Regions from separate parts of the Homo sapiens genome. Here region 2 is linked to region 1. The links come from fine-mapping of genetic effects on gene expression. Tissue or cell type: thyroid. Region 1 holds a variant in brackets; the other region holds the start of a gene. All regions are shown on one strand. Distances are from middle to middle.

Region 1 (8,000 bases):
GATGCTATTCCTGCCCCTGTGCATACTTTGGAGTTCACTGGAGGGTCTGGACATGTTGTTTCTCTTCCTATGCAGCTCTTTCCTCTACGGTACTTTACTTTGCAAACACAAGCTATCTTGGCCTTCCCAGAGTCTCAGCTCCATTTTCTCAACTCGGCATCTGCCAAGCCCTACCTGGGGGTTCTCCTTGTGCTTCAGCTGGGAAACTTTCTCCAGTTTACCTCTGAGTTCAACCTGATAACTCCAATTCTATTTCCATACTTTAAGGTTCATCCTAGCATTCTCCTTTTTCATATTCACAGTTCTTTTTATTAAGCTTTATTGAGGTATAATTAACATGCAGAATTGCACATATTTAATGTACACATTTTGATGAGTTTGGACATATGCCTAAGAGTGTATACTCAAAATACTTAGCTGGGTTCAGTCTATTTTCCCCCTGACCACTTCAGTGTGGTTATATGATTTATTTGAAAGACAGCTTTTTCTTGTTTGCTTGTTTTCCATTTTAGGATTTTTTTTAACTCATACTTTTTTCCCTTTTAGAGTATATGAAACATCAACATGGTTCAAAAAGTCAAAAGTCAGAACTATATAGAGTTAATTTTGTATAGACTAAGATATGAATCTAATTTTATCTCTTTCTAAATGGCAATCTACCTGTTACAAAACCATTGTTTAAAAAGTTTGTGTTAGGTGGGCACAGTGGCTCATGTCTGTAATCCCAGCACTTTGGGAGGCCGAGGCGCGTGGATCACTTGAGGTCAGGAGTTCGAGAACAGCCTGCCCAACATGGTGAAACCCCATCTCTACTAAAAATACAAAAATTAGCCAAGTGTGGTGGCGCATGCCTGTAATCCCAGCTACTCGGGAGGCTGAGGCAGGAGAATTGCTTGAACCCGGGAGGCGGAGGTTGCAGTGAGCCGAGATTGTGCCACTGCCCTCCAGCCTGGGCGACAGAGTGAGGGAAAATAATAATTAAAAAAAAGCTTATCTTCATGTCAGCAATTTTACATGCCACCTTTTACCATATATGAAAGCTCCCTATTCACTTGGATCTCTTTCTTTTTATTCTGTCTGTCCATTTAGTTACCATCACATAAATTATGGTGGCTTTATTGTATGTTTTATTATCCATAGGGCTAGTCTCCATTGTAGCTTTTCTTTTCTCAGTGTTTCCCTGACTATTCTTTTTGTTTTGTTTTGTTTTGAGACGGAGTCTCGCCCAGTTGTCCAGGCTGGAGTGCAGTGGTGCGATCTTGGCTCACAGCAGCCTCTGCCTCCCGGGATCAAGCTGTTCTCCTGTCTCAGACTCCTGAGTAGCAGGGATTACAGGCACGTGCCATCACACCTGGCTAATTTTTGTATTTTTAGTGGAGACAGGGTTTCACCATGTTGCCCAAGCTGGTCTCGAACTCCCAACCTCCCAAAGTGCTGGGATTACAGGTGTGAGCCCAGGCTTGAGCCACCACGCCCATCCAAGACCCTGACTATTCTTACATGTTTGGTTTTTCATGTGAACCTTACTATCAACTTGTCTAGCTCCAGATAAAAACTTTTTGATATTTCTATTGAGATTGTGTTAAATTTATAAATTAATCTGTGATGTTGCATCATCCTATCCAAGAGCACTGGCTGTCTTTCCACTTGCTGTAGTCTACTTTTGTGTCTTTCGGGAGTGTTGTTTTTCTCATATAGGTTTTGTATATGTCATACTGAAATTTATTCTTAAGCATTTAACTTCTTTTTTGCTTTGTTAATGTTTTTTTTCTATTACATCCTCTGTTTTTTGCTTGTATATTTGAAGGCTACTATTTCTGTATGTAAATTTTTATCTTCCTGAATTCTTTTGTTCTTTGAGTTAATTATACCTTTATTTCTCTAGAGCTTTCCAGATAAGTATCACACTCCATCTGCAAATACTTTTACTTATTTCCCAATTCCTAAACCTCTAATTGATTCCTTAAATATAACTGCATTGCCTAATATCTTCTTTAGAACATTAAATAGTAGTGGAAATAGTAGATGATCTTGTTTTGTTTCTGATCCTTATGGAAATTCCTGTAGCATTTCTTCATTAAGAAAGATTCTGTATTCAGGAAAAATCATAAGTGCTATCAGAAATATTCTTTTTTTGTACTGTCTTTATCAGGTTTAGGTATATATATTACACTTGCTTCAGAAGAATTGTTTGGAGTTTTCTTTCACTGTCTAGGCTGTGACAGAAATGTAAGTAGCAGTGAGACAATCAGTTCTTTGACAATTCCTCTATGAAATCAACTAGGCCTTTTTGTGTTTCTCCTCTGGGAATTTATCTGTTTATGCTTTCTTTCTGTAATGGGGTCAATTTTGGTACAGTTTCCTAAGAAATTATTCATTTTTTATGGTTTGCAAATTTATTTACACAGAGATCTCTCTGCCAGATAGTCTGTCATATTTTAAATCTCTTGTATTTCAATAGTTATCTCCCCCTTGTCATTTCATATTTTGTATATTTGTGCTATTTCTTTTTTCCCTTGGTTATGTTAGCCAGTGGTGTGTCAATTTTGTTATTTTTCCTTGAAACACTGATTTTTATTTAGTTATTTTTTTTCTATTCCCAACCTTACTACTTTTTCTTTTATGTTTATTATTTCCTTCCTTATGTTTCATTTTGGTCATTTTGTTGTGCTTATCTTAGCATTTGGAGTTTGGAATTTAATGAGTATATTTTTTGTCTTTCATTATTATTGATATAAATGCTTAAGGCTGTGAATTTTCCACTGATCTTTGCTTTAAATATATCCCATAGATGCTAAGTAGTATTTTTATTTATTTTTTTTTTTAAAAGTTCTTTAATTTTAGCACTCACCCATTTTACTTCCTTTCAATTTGGTATCATGGTGTAGCTATTCTAAAATGATCCTGCTCCCTAATGCCCTCAGAATAAAGCCCCAAACCTGCAGCCCTTCATGGTTTGCTTATTTCTCCAGCCATGTTCTCTCTCTGTCATATGCTCACTCTGCCTACAGTTTCCTTTTTCCTTATACCACCTGGCCAATGTCTAGTCATTTTTGAAGATGAAGATCAAATTTAGGAATCCTTCTCTGATAATTCTCAACCCCCAATACCATCCCAGTTAAGCATTCCTCCTGGAAACTTAATAAAATCATATACTTCCTTTTTGTAATACTTATAACATTATATTTTAATATTTTGTTTTTCCACTAACATTGTAAGATCCTTGAAAGAAGGTATGCTTTTTTATTACTGTTCCCATGGTGTTCAGTAAATATTTGTTTAGTGTCCCTTCAGCTGTAGATTTCAAAACTACTATTTTAATGCATACATTCTGACCTGTGAGCTCTAGCATACTCTAGAGCTTCTTTGTCATAAACTTAGTTTGGTTGGTTGGTCTTAGCTTTTCAATTGAAGTGTAACATACAGAAAAGTACACAAATTACAAGTGTCCAGCTCAATCAATTTTCACAAAATGAAAACACCTATGCAACCACAACCCAGATCAGCTCCATGAATTTTTACAAGGTGAACGCCTGTGAAACTGTACTACATATCAAGAAATAGAACCTTACCAGCCCTCCAGAAGCCTCCTTTGTGACTCCTCTCAATTGTTATGCCCTTGTTTTTTTCCCAAAGGTAACCATTATCCTAATCTCTAACAACACAGATTAATTTTGTCTGTTTTTGAATTTTATATAAATGGGAAAATACGGTAAGTACAACTTTGTGTATGGCTTCTTTCACTCTGTTATGGTAGTTCTTTTTTATTGCTGTGTAATATTTCATTGTTGGAAATTACCACAATTTACTTATATGTTCTATTGTTAGGCATTTGGGTTGTTTCCAATTTGGGGCTCTTATGAATAAAGCTGCTATGAAAATAATCCTTACATAAGCCTCTTTTTGCCCATGTGAATGCATATCTTTTCAGTATGTACACAGAAGTGGAATTGCTGGGTTATCACTTTAGTAGAATAGTTTCCAAATTCACATCCTTGCCAACAGTGTATGAAGGTTTTCACAGCTTAACAGCTTCACTGACAATTAGTATTTTCTGACTTTTTCATTTTTTGCAGTTCTGGTGAGTGTGCAGTAGTATCTTATTGTGGTTTTAATTTGGATTTCCCCAGTGACTAATTAGGTTGAACACCTTTTCAAATGTTTATAGGCTTTTTGGATATCCCCTCATGTATAAGTCATATTCATTTTTCTTTAACTTTCTTAGTACTTCAAAAGAATTCCAGTATGTTCTGGATACAAGCTGTCAGCTATACCTATTCCAAGTATCTACTCTCTCACCCTGACCTGGTTTTCACTATCTTAATGGTATCATTTGATGAGCCTAAGTTGTTTATTTAATATAATAGTCCAAATTATCTTTTTATCTTTTCGATCTAGTGCTTTTTAGTGTCCTACACTATTTAAGACATCTTTCCCTATCTGGAAGAGATGCTTTATTATTTCACCATTCGTGCTTAAATCTACAATCTACTTAGTGTTAACTTTAGGATATGATGTGGGATGTGAGTTGACATTCCCTTTTTCCCACGTGTGTATCCAATTGACCTGGCACCATTTATTGCTGCCTTGCCACTTTGCCTTAAATCAGTCGTCCCTATATATATGATTATGTTTCTGGACTCTAGGCGAATTCTGTTTTGTCTATGTGTCTATCCTTGTGTCAGTAACACACTTAGTTGCTGTAGCTTTATAATAAGTCTTGATGATATG[C/T]GGTAACATTAGTTCTCCCCTTTGTTGTTATTCTTCAAGACTGTCTTGGCTATTCTTCGCCCTTTGTAGCCCCATATAAATTTTAAAATCGGTTTGTTGATTTCCACAAGAAAACTTGCTGAAACATGTCAGCTGAAATTTGACTGGGATAGAATTGAATCCATTCATCAATTTGATGTATCCCTCCATTTATTTAGATTTTAATTTCTCTATCTTTTGTATTTTTCTGTGAAACATCTGAAAAGATTGCACACATCTTTCATTTAAATTATTCTTGGGAATTTGGTGTTTTATGTTATTGTAATTGGTATCTTTTCATAATTTTCCAGTTGGTACCGGTTATTTAGATAGCAAATTGATATATGTATATTGGCTTTATATCCAGCAGCCTTATGGATATAAATGTACTTATTAATCCTAATGATTTATCTGCAGATTTTATTTCCTTGGGATTTTCTATGTAAACAGTCATGTCTTCCATAAACAAGGGCAATTTAATTTCACCCTTTCCAATCTTTACACCTTTTTATTTCTCTTTCATGCCTTATTATACTGTCTCAGTCTTCCAGTAAAATTTATGAATAAAATGTAAAAGAGAATGCTTTAAAATTTCCCAATTATCTCTGGTGTTTAATTTAGCTTTTCTGTAGTTAGCCTCTATCATATTAAGGAAGTTCCCTTGTATTTCTAGTATTCTAAGCCTCTTTTTTATGATTGAATGTTGAATTTTATCAAATGCTCCTTCTGCATTTATTAAGATAATCATATGATTATTTGCCTTAATGTGGTAAGTCGCATGAACTGATTTCTGAATCTTAACCCAGCTTTGCATTCCTTAGTCACTGTATATTATCTCTTTAGTGTATTCACTAGGCTAATCTTTTTAGGAATTATATATCTTTTTCATAAATAAGATTGATCCATAATTTTCTTTTCTTTAAACACCTTTGCTAGATTTTGATATCATGGTTTTGCTGGCTGCATAGTACAAAGTAGAAAATGTTCCCATATCTCGATTTTCTGAAATGGTTTGTGTAAGTTTGGGTTTTTTCTTTAAATGTTTGATAGAATGTAACAGATTAGCAATGTCAGTGTGGAGTTTTCTTTGTGTAAAGTTTTAAATTATAGGTTCAGTTTCTTTAAAATATGTAGGATTATTCTGATTTTCTGTATCGTTTTAGTTTTGGCAAGTTGTGCTTTTCTAGGAATTTATCCTAGAACTTTAGTTTACATTGTTCACAATATCTTCTTATTATTCTTTTAAAGTTTGTAGGATCCGAAGTGATTTCTCTTTTTTCATTCCTTACATTAGTAATTTTTGTGTTCTCTGTTTTTACCTTGATCAGTCTTGGTGGGGGTTTATTAATGATATCAGTCTTTTCAAAAGAGCCATAAATGTCCCTTTAAGCACTGCTTTGGGTACATCCATAATTTTTATTTACTATCCTTCAGTTCAAAGTATTTCCCTTGTGATATTATTACCCTTGTGATTTACTTTGATGTAGGTGTTATTTAGAAATATTTCATAAGATGAAATCAACACATGCTGCCCCTATATCTCACTGAACTCAACTATATACTCTGGAAAGAATGCCAAGCCTAGCTATTTGTGAACTCTGGAATGTAAATAACAGGCAGATTGGAGAAGGGCCCCAAAACTCAAAATACCACAGAAGTGGGGATATAAACAAGATCCAAAGTCTCATAACTTAATATCCAAAATAACCAGGACATAAACCAAAGTTATTTAACATATTAAGAACCACAGAAATCTCATCTTGTATGGGAGAAGATAATCAACAGATACAAAAGGCAAGATGACACTTATGTTGGAAATATCTGACAAGACTTTAAAAGCTGCCATTATGAAAATGCTCAAGCTATCAGTCACAAAAATGTTGCAACAAATATTTAAAAAGAAAAAGTATCATATAAGAAATAGAAGATAAAAAGAAGCAAATGTAAATTTTACAACTGAAAAATATAACAACCAAAAATTTTAAACTCTAGATTAAAAGTGAGAATGCAGTGGAAATGCCAGAGGAAAGAGTCAGTAAACTTGAAGATAGATTAATAGAATTATCCAAGCTGGATAACAGACAGAAAAGACTGGGAAAAAAGGGACAGAGTTTCAGAGAACTGTAGAAAAACCACAAAAGGTAGCAAAGGATAGACATATAAATCAGTGGAATAGAATTGTGAGTCCATAAGTCAACCTGTACATTTCTGGTCAATTGATCTTCAACAACTGTGCCATGATAATTCAACAGGGAAATAAGAGGCAATTCAACAAATGGTGCTGGGACAGCTGGATATCCACATGCAAAAAGAATAATGCTGGACCACTATCTTCACCCAATATACAAAAATTAAAATGGATCAAAGATCTAAATAGAAGAGCTAAAACAATACAACTTTAGAAGAAAACATAGGGGTACATCTTCATGACCTTCAATTTGGCACTAATTTCTTAAATATGACATCAAATGCACAAGGGAGAAAGGAAAAACAGATAAATTGGATTTGATAAAAATTAAAAACTTTTGTGCATCACAGCACATTATCAAGAAGGTGAAAATAACCTACAGAATCAGAAAAAATAGTGGCAAATTACAAAAAGCAGTCTCCCCTTATCTTTGGGGAATATGTTCCAAGAACCCCAGTGGAGGCCTGAAACCACAGATAGTACTGACCCCTATTACACCATGTTTTCTTATACACGCACACCTGTGATAAAGTTTAGTTTATAAATTAGGCACAGTATGAGATTAACAACAACAATAGTAAAATAGAACAATTATAACAATATATTGTTCACAATTTCAAAGATAGAAGATTTGTTCTTACTATAGGCCTTAGCAGCATTAGCATATGATATGTTCTCGTTTTTTAAAATTAAGTTGGATACTTTTCATCATTTCACTTAAATGAAGCACTTTAGGGCTTCTCTTTGGCATAGCAGAACTGCCAACATTGCTGCTCCTATGTTCTGGGGCCATTATTAAGTAAAATAAGGGTTATTTGAACATTAGAACTGCAATACCGTGACAGTCAATCTGATGGTTACCAAGTGACTAATGGGCAGGTATCATATACAGTATGGATCAGATGGACAAAGGGTTGATTCATATCCTGGGCAGGTTAGAGCAGGATGGCGTAAGATTTCATCATGCTACTCAGAAAGGTCTGCAACTTAAAGCTTATGAATTGTTTATTTCTAGAATTTTTCATCTAACATTTTTGGACCGTGGTTGACCACAGGTAACTGA
Region 2 (8,209 bases), 36 kb before region 1:
ACATTTAAATTTGTTTTGAATGGAAAACAAAATTGCATTGGTTATATTGACATTAAAAGGAAATAATGCCAGTGGAATAGAGGGCAAAGAGTTTGGAGATGATGGTCTGAGTTACTGAGTCACTACAAAGAGGCCTATGAGTCACTACAAAATATTCTCAGAAGAAAGGCAGTGTGATGTGCTGCTGTGACCCAAAGGTCAACATGCTGGGCATCAGCGGGATGAGCTTGGGAACCACCTCTCAGCACAGTATCCTGGAATTGTGTGTGCTAGCATTCAGAGGGCATGCAGGCCCAGAGAAAGACAACTGCAGTGATCAAGGGACAGAGAAGTCACCATATGAGCATGAACAAAGTCCTCAGCAGAGAAATGCAAAGGCTGAGGGAGAGGGATTCAGATCAAAGCCTATACAATCACAGGTTTTATGAGTGGAAAAATGTGATTCTTAGAAAACTTGCTCCCAACATTTTCCTTGGTCAAATAAGTTTGGGAATCTTGGAGAGTCATAAAGCACATTAGTGTAGTAACTGTTCTGGCAAGTTATGCAGTAAAGAAACTTTATGTTAACATTTCCCAAATTTATTTGACTAGAGAACATTTTATTTGCACATGATACTTGTTTACAAAATTCAGGACTTCTCGAACTAAGACGAATCTTTTAAAACCTCAACATAGACTTAGGTACAAGGTGCAATACAATACATGGAATATAAACTTGTGCAACTCAACTCAAGGAATACTGCCAGCTACAAATACAAATGAATTCCAAAAATGTTTAGATAACTGCATAACTTTATCATCCACTAGAAGAGATTGTCCCCATGAGGGTCACCTTGATTTCGGGGCCAGAGAGCACACTGGCCAAGACAGACAATTTCTTAGTAAGGCATTTTGTAAATTAGGTTTTAAATGGATGACATATAAGATAGAAGGGCTTCCTTAGGTAGTAATCTAAGTAAAACTATCATTTTTCCTTTACAGAATAAATTCTTTTGTGTCTTTTTTAAAAAAGTATAGTTTGCTTTAATTGCCAGGTTGATGAACAGTTTTTAAACATTGATCAGTTGAATACACTTATTTTATTAGAAGTCAATTAATAAACTCGTCCAATTACAATGAGTGAAATTACCAAGAACACAGGCCCAGGCCTGTGTATGAGTCCTGAGTCTGTCACTTACTAGCTTTGTGACCTTGGACAAGTTAACGTCTCTCCACCTCAGTTTCCTGAGGTGTAAAATGAGAATTAAAGAACATATTAATCATGATAGTCTTTATTTAGCATTTCCTATATGTTTACATATATTGACTCATTTAATTTTCACAATCTTCATAGGGCGCTATGAGGTGGGCAGAATTATTATCATCCCCACTTAAAGGTGAGGAAAAGAAAGGCACAGAGAAGTTAGGTAACTTGCTCAAGGTCACACAGTGGGGAAGTTGTTGAGCTTGACTCCAAATGGGGCAGTTTACATGTACCAGGCATATAAATGCTTAGTATCTAGCATATAATAAGCTTGCCATAAATGTTAATAATTTTGTTCTACTCCAGTTAAATGCCTGGAGCTGTAAAAGGCAGCCATGAGCATTAGAAAAGTTAGTGAACCTCATTCTGGAATATGAGATTGACTACCGCCGATAACAAACAAAAGGTATTTTTCTTCTTGAAAGTGCCTAAAGGCACTATATCCCATCACCAAATGTTAATGTCATAATAATAAGAACAGCCGTTCCTGCTCCATGAGGACGGGGCATACTAGCCACAAACAGTAACTGAAAATAACATATGATATAAAATTGAAACAAGAGAAAATTTAGACAGGTCCAATGTAACTGCACACGAAAATTTTCCAACCTTCATCATGATCAAATTAATTATAGAAAGATGTGCCATGTGATCCTTACAGATCGTTAGGTAAAAACGGAGGCTGCTGGCGTGCACATTACAGATCGTTGCACTGGATGGGGACCCTATGTGTGGGGAGACTTGGGTTGGAACTGACTTGGGAGAAAAGAGCAAAGCATCAACACTTCAAGTAGCACCTTGGGAATGTTCCCTTTCCAGTACTGCCATACCTGCCTGGCTTCAAAACTACACAAAGTAGAAAACCAAATCAAAGACACGAACACGGACGGGCTGTGGAGGCGGCACGGCATATATTGTGCTTTGATTTAGAATCGCTTTCAAAATCCACGTGTGATTCCTAGACTTGTGAGTTGGAAGATCTGTACTTTTATCCTTGGCACGTTTGACATACCTCGAAATAAAAATTACTTTTACATATATTTTTACTGTCTGATATCATCGAGACAAGGAGACCCGAGGAAACTTGCATTCTGGATACCTAATGTGATACATCCGAACTTGAATAAAAACTGAAGTTCTCCATTTCCCCTTCCCTGTATCCAACAAATAGCTACCTAAAAGCCTTTGTAGAAAGTAGCAGCAGCCAAGCTTAAGAGTGATACTTTTTCAGATACAGTATAACACTGTTTCTGCAAAAGGTTACTCACATGAATATAATGTTTCTTGGGCTAATTAATCCGCCTTGAGAACAGCTAGGCTAAAACTTCCAGGTCTCCCACCCTGGGCCACTCAAGCCAGGATCGCGACGTGAGCCCGGGGTGAGCCGAGGGGCATCCCGGGCCGAGGTCACTCGAACCGAAGTTATGAGGCGCGGGCCGGCAACCGGAAGTGGTCCAGGGAGAGTTGTACGAGATTCGGGGGCTGTGACTTGGAAATAAAACAAAATAAAATAAAACCTTAACTGTTTTGGGACTGACTTTCAAAAGAGCGTCCCCCTGGCTCAAGAGGCCGGCGTTCGCGGAGATGTCGTCTTAAAGGGCTGTCCCCCAAGCGTGTAGGCCGCGCACGGGTCTCCTTAGCGGGCGGGCAAAATGGGCGCCGGTACTCGGGAGGCGCCTGCCCAGGCGCCCGGGCGCCGCTCACAGAGTACGTCCGCCTGCGGCCCCAGAGCGCCGCCTCCCTGCCGCCCCCGCCGCCCGGCCTGACGCCCGGACCGCGGCCGGCCACCGCCCTCCGCCCCGACGGCCACGCCTGCCCCAAACCGCGCGGGCGTTTCCCAGGTGCTGCTGGGCGGGCCCCGCCCCCGTGCCCCAAGGCCCGCCCCCGCGCGCCAGCCGCGCGCCCGCTGCCCCCTCCTCGCCCCCACAGCCCCGCCCCCACAGCCCCGCCCGCTCCCTAAGCCCCGCCCCCTAGGAACCCGCGCGCCGAAGGCCAGGCCTGGGCGGAGCGCACAGCGCTGGGCGCTGGGGAGGCTGCGCCGCAGCACCCGGTTGGTCAGGACCAAGTGGGCCCGAGGCGGACGTGAGAAGGGTCGGGCCAAGATGGCGGTGCAGGTGGTGCAGGCGGTGCAGGCGGTTCATCTCGAGTCTGACGCTTTCCTCGTTTGTCTCAACCACGCTCTGAGCACAGAGAAGGAGGAAGTAATGGGGCTGTGCATAGGGGAGGTGAGTAGGTCTGTTAGCCTGGATGGAACCCTGCTGAGCAGTCCCAGTGTGTCCCCGGGGTGGGTGCCGGCAGCTCCCAGGGCTGCGGAGGCCACAGGCATCCTCGATTTAGGTCCTTGGACACCCTTTACATAGCTCTGTCGCGGGGAGCCCCGTTTCTTCTGGCCGCCTGACACTTGTTTAGTCTCCTGCGAGCCCCCGGCGGTCTGTACAGGCCCCGGGAGCCTTGCCCTTTCTCCTGTAGCCTGGGGCTTCTCTTTAGATCTGCGCTTTTCGCCCGGTTGACCAAAACTGCAAGGCAGGTCAGAAAGACACTGGAGTATAATGAGGATGTCCGGGTATTACGACGCAGCAGCTGACCACAGTTAGAGCCCCTTGCCTCGCCTCGAGTCTTCTGTCTAGGGAGCAGAGATATCAACCAAAGCATTTGAAGGGTATCGAAGAGCCTAACAGAAGGTGCGGGGCTTGAAGGAAGCAAAAGTTTCCGCTGCATTGTGTTGAGGAGGGGCCGAAGAGGATGAGGAAATACAGTTTAGCTGTTTACAGTCTAAAGTAATTCTCCAGTCTTTCATACCATGTGCGTGAACACATGACCTAATTGTCATATAATCTGCATCCATATATGTCAAACAAACGTAATGTGATCAATAATGTTTTTTGCTTTTTCCCACTCTAGTTGAACGATGATACAAGGTAAGACTGTATTTGTTTACTCATATCTTATAATCTCTAAGTCATTGTTAACCTAAAATTATGGCGACTTTGGCAGTATTGTGTCCGGATCGTGTCTTAAATTAATTACCATTATCACTCCGGGGCTCCCTTAATGATACAACCTTGAACTTTGGTTTCTGCCTTACCTCCTATTCAGTTGAGATATGGGATAAACATCTTAATAAGCATTATCATAATTGTTGCGTTTTAGGGGTGAGACAGAGCCTCACTCTGTCGCCCAGGCTGGAGTGCAGTGGCGCGATCTCTGCTCACTGCAACCTCCGCCTCCCAGGTTCAAGCGATTCTCATACTTCAGACTCCCGAATAGCTGAGATTACAGGTGCCCGCCACCACACCCGGCTGTCTTTTTTTTTTGTACAGACGGGGTTTCACCATGTTGGCCAGGCTGGTCTCGAACTCCTGGCTCAAGCAGTCTGCCCACCTCGACCTCCCCAAGTGCTGGAATTTCAGGCGTGAGCCACCACACCTGGCCTTGCTCAGTGTATTTCATGTTCTGTCTCCCCTTAAATGCCAGTGAGATATCAGTAATTTTCTTAGTGACAGAGAGCATATACGTTTAGAGGCATTTCCCCATTGATCCATTCCTTCACGTAAATTGACAGTGACATTGCCTTTCCTCCTGATGGACCTCAGTGATCTCAGAGATCCCCAGTAGCTTCAATACTTGACGTGGTGAAACCTTTCGGTAACATTTTAATTTAAACTTCAAATCATACCATAGTATACTTCTCAAGCCCACCTCCTTAGTTCCCAGGATTCCAGGAATTTAGCTTTGTCCATTATAACTTTATACACTCAGCCACTTGTGCATGTGTCCCAGATTGCTTCTAACAGATAGAGTGCAGCTCTAGCCTCAATTCAGTTTCCCTCCTCTTCTTTGGTCTCTGCTAAGATTTCATTGCAAAAACAGTTAATCCTGTTATTTTGCTTTAATTCCTTTTTATATTCCAAACCCCACTTCCTTTTTTTTTTTCTAATTTATTCCCAGTAGGAGTGACTCCAAATTTGCATATACTGGAACTGAAATGCGCACAGTTGCTGAAAAGGTATGTGTGCTAAAATTTTGCATGATGGAAACTTGCAGTTGGGGAAAGATTTCTGTAATCCAGTGATCTCAGCCAGAGTATGCGGTTTCTGGCTGGATGAGATATTCTTTCTAGTAAAATCAGATGAAGAATCTACTCACTAGGAATGGGACCTAATTTTCTGTTCTTTGTAGCAAATTGTCTCTACTTGATCAAGATTAATAATCACTGTCAGTACCACCCTCTTGCTGCTCTCCTTGCTGTCACTGCCTGTTTTCTGGCCCTTCTCCCACTTTCCTTGATACTTTGGCATCCTTGATACTTTCACATCACTATTACCTCTTTATCTCGAATTCCAACATCTACTCATGCAGCCCTCTCTTCTTAAACAGGCAAACTGACCATAGCATCATAGTTCTTAGTCTGCCTTGACTTTTTTCCTATCTGCACTCCTACACCATCTTTTGTGGCATGCTCTAGCCTTGATGGTCTAGTGTAATGCTTCTCACCTAATCGTGGTATCGGACCAGTTAACGTTTCCCCCAGTCTGTCACAGACCGATGCTTTTGTAAAATACAAAAAAAATGAATTACTTCCCCTCCTCCCACCAAGTTATCAGGCCACACCTTCATCTACTTATTACTACTAGTTACAAACTTCTCCACCTTAATCACTTTGCATCTCTTCCCATATCAAAGAAATAAGTCCTCTTCCTATCCAAAGCTGCAGCTTCTTCAGAGACCTTGTTTATCAAATGTTCTGTCTCTTTTCTGGGTCTTCTCCCTGTCACCTGGTTCTTTTAGGATAAACATATGCTTAAATTACTCTCATTTTCAGAAAGGAAAGCTACTTCTTAATCCCGTATCTTCCTGTAGTCAGTACTCTTATATCCTTCCTTTAATAGCCAGACTTCTTAAAAGAATGGGCTACAATTACTACTCCTTCACCTTCCCCAGTCAAACCCACTGAGGTCTGGTTTCTAATTCTACCTTCGGTGGATTATTTCCTGGTGCTTATCTTCATCTTTCTCCTTGAATCTCTAAACTCTCATGAGTTTTTGTTGGTTTTGTTGTATTGCCTTTATTCCTGTTTCCCCCTTCCCACAATCCTTTGTGGACTCCTCTTCCTCCTCTGTCTATGCATTAAATATTACTCATTCCTCTTAGGCACTGAAATCTCTGACTAAAGCAAGAAAGAGAGAAAGAAACAATTCACCCTGGGCATCAGTTACTAAGATACATTCCAATCTTAATAATGTAATTTTATTATTCAAGATTTCATGCCCTCGTCTTGAGTTTTATGTCAGTTTGTACTGTCTAAATTAGATATTAAACTTTATTAGTTAAGCTGCCTTTTTAGTGTTGCATAGTGTATTTTTTATCCTTTTATTTTTAGCCTTTCTGTATACTAATATTTAAAATGTGTCTCTTGTGTCTCTTATTAGTGGTAAATACTTTTTAAAAAATCCAGTGTGATAATCTTTTTAAGTGGAGTATTCAGTTGAAAAACAAAACAAAAATAAACCACAAAAAAAGAAATATCATGTGAGCCACGAATGTGATCCATATACATAATTTTAAATTTTTTAGTAATCACAGTAAAAAGGAATAAATGAAATTAATTTGAAGGGTGTATTTTAGTTAACCTAAGTATCTGAAGGATTATTATTTTAATATGTAGTGAATATTAAGAAATGTTGAGATATTTTACATTCCTTTTTTCTCTTTTGTGTTGTCTTTGAATTCCATGTGTATTTCATACTTGCTGCATATCTGAAATCAGACCTGTTGCACAGTGAAAATCTATAGCTTGTTTCAAAAGCCTTCTCTCAGATTTCACCCTTGTCCCTTCAACATCTGATAATGCTAAGCCCACTCTTTCCCCTGGCCCTTCTTGTTCTTCCCCACACTAAATGTGGCCACTCCCCTTGATTCAGGCCAAGACCTCTGCTCCCTTTCTCCACACCTTTTTTGTCCACTCATAAATGCTTTATTGATTCCTGCATTGATGCTGTTTGAGTCTAAGCTATAATCCCACTTGCCTGCTAAAAATTGCCATATTGTATATCTCTCATCCCAGATTATCTCATCTGAAAACAAGCTCATCTTCTTTCCTTCCTGACCCTTTCTAAACTTAGATCTGCCTCACACGTTCTACCTAGTTTCAACCTTGAAACTTTAGAGTCCTCTTTGACCGTTTCCTGTCCACCATCACCCATGGTCCATAAGCTACCAAATCTTGTAGATTCATTCTTTTTAATGGGTCTCAAATCTGTTTCTTCCATCTCTGCCATCTGCTTAGCCCAGTACTTCATTGTTACTTCATGTACAGTTTATCTGAAATAATTTTTTTTCCTTCGAGTTCATCCTGCAAATTATGGCTTGGCATTTGAGGTCTTGTACATTCTCACTCCAACTTTCTTAGCTTTGCCATCTGCCATTTCACCTCAAGCTCTGTATCTAAATCAGTTGGGTAAGTTGTCTCCCAGACACCTCATTCACACTTTACTACTTCCATTCGGCACCTGTAGAAAATCTGTTCCCCCCACTTCCCACAATAATCAAGGAATGGATACACTTGTCTGCCTTTTCTATGAAGATTTTTTTCTTTTTTAGATTCATATTCTGCTTATGTAAAAGATTACTTTTCTAATATAAGTGAGTTCTTTCCTCTGAGCTCCTGTATTAGTCTGTTATCACACTGTAAAGAACTCTCTGAGGCCGGGTGCGGTGGGTTATGCCTGTAATCCCAGCACTTCGAGAGGTCGAGGCAGGCCTGAAGTCAGGAGTTTGAGACCAGCCTAGCCAATATGGCTACCAAAAAATACAAAAAGCCGGGCATGGTGGCGTGTGCCTGTAATCCCAGCTGCTGAGGAGGCTGAGGTGGGAGAATCGCTTGAACCCAGGAGGTAGACGTTGCAGTGAGCTGAGATTGCACTACTGCACTCCAGCCTGGGCGACAGACTGAGACTGTGTCAAAAA

Evidence for each region. PIP is the estimated chance that this variant, and not a neighbour inherited with it, causes the effect.
Region 2: it holds the start of BRCC3, and the variant in region 1 is fine-mapped to the expression of BRCC3 in thyroid (GTEx, PIP above 0.99).

The regions. Positions count from the first base shown.
Region 1 is chrX:155,104,507-155,112,506 of GRCh38, forward strand. The region is part of intron 7 of BRCC3 (BRCA1/BRCA2-containing complex subunit 3); the gene reads left to right. Among named protein-coding and RNA genes, the nearest start is that of BRCC3, 37 kb to the left of the region's middle. The variant C/T (reference allele first, on the strand shown) is at 4,732.
Region 2 is chrX:155,068,183-155,076,391 of GRCh38, forward strand. BRCC3 (BRCA1/BRCA2-containing complex subunit 3) reads left to right here and starts at 3,326. Exons shown (of 11, transcript NM_001018055.3): 1 at 3,326-3,468; 2 at 4,145-4,161; 3 at 5,195-5,249. The coding sequence starts at 3,346. It overlaps CMC4 (C-X9-C motif containing 4), which reads right to left and starts at 2,954. Exons shown (of 3, transcript NM_001018024.3): 1 at 2,512-2,954. MTCP1 (mature T cell proliferation 1) reads right to left here and starts at 2,954. Exons shown (of 5, transcript NM_001018025.4): 1 at 2,512-2,954. RefSeq lists enhancers at 2,582-2,881, 2,866-3,587, 3,352-3,571, 3,582-3,631, 3,588-4,309 and a silencer at 2,922-3,241.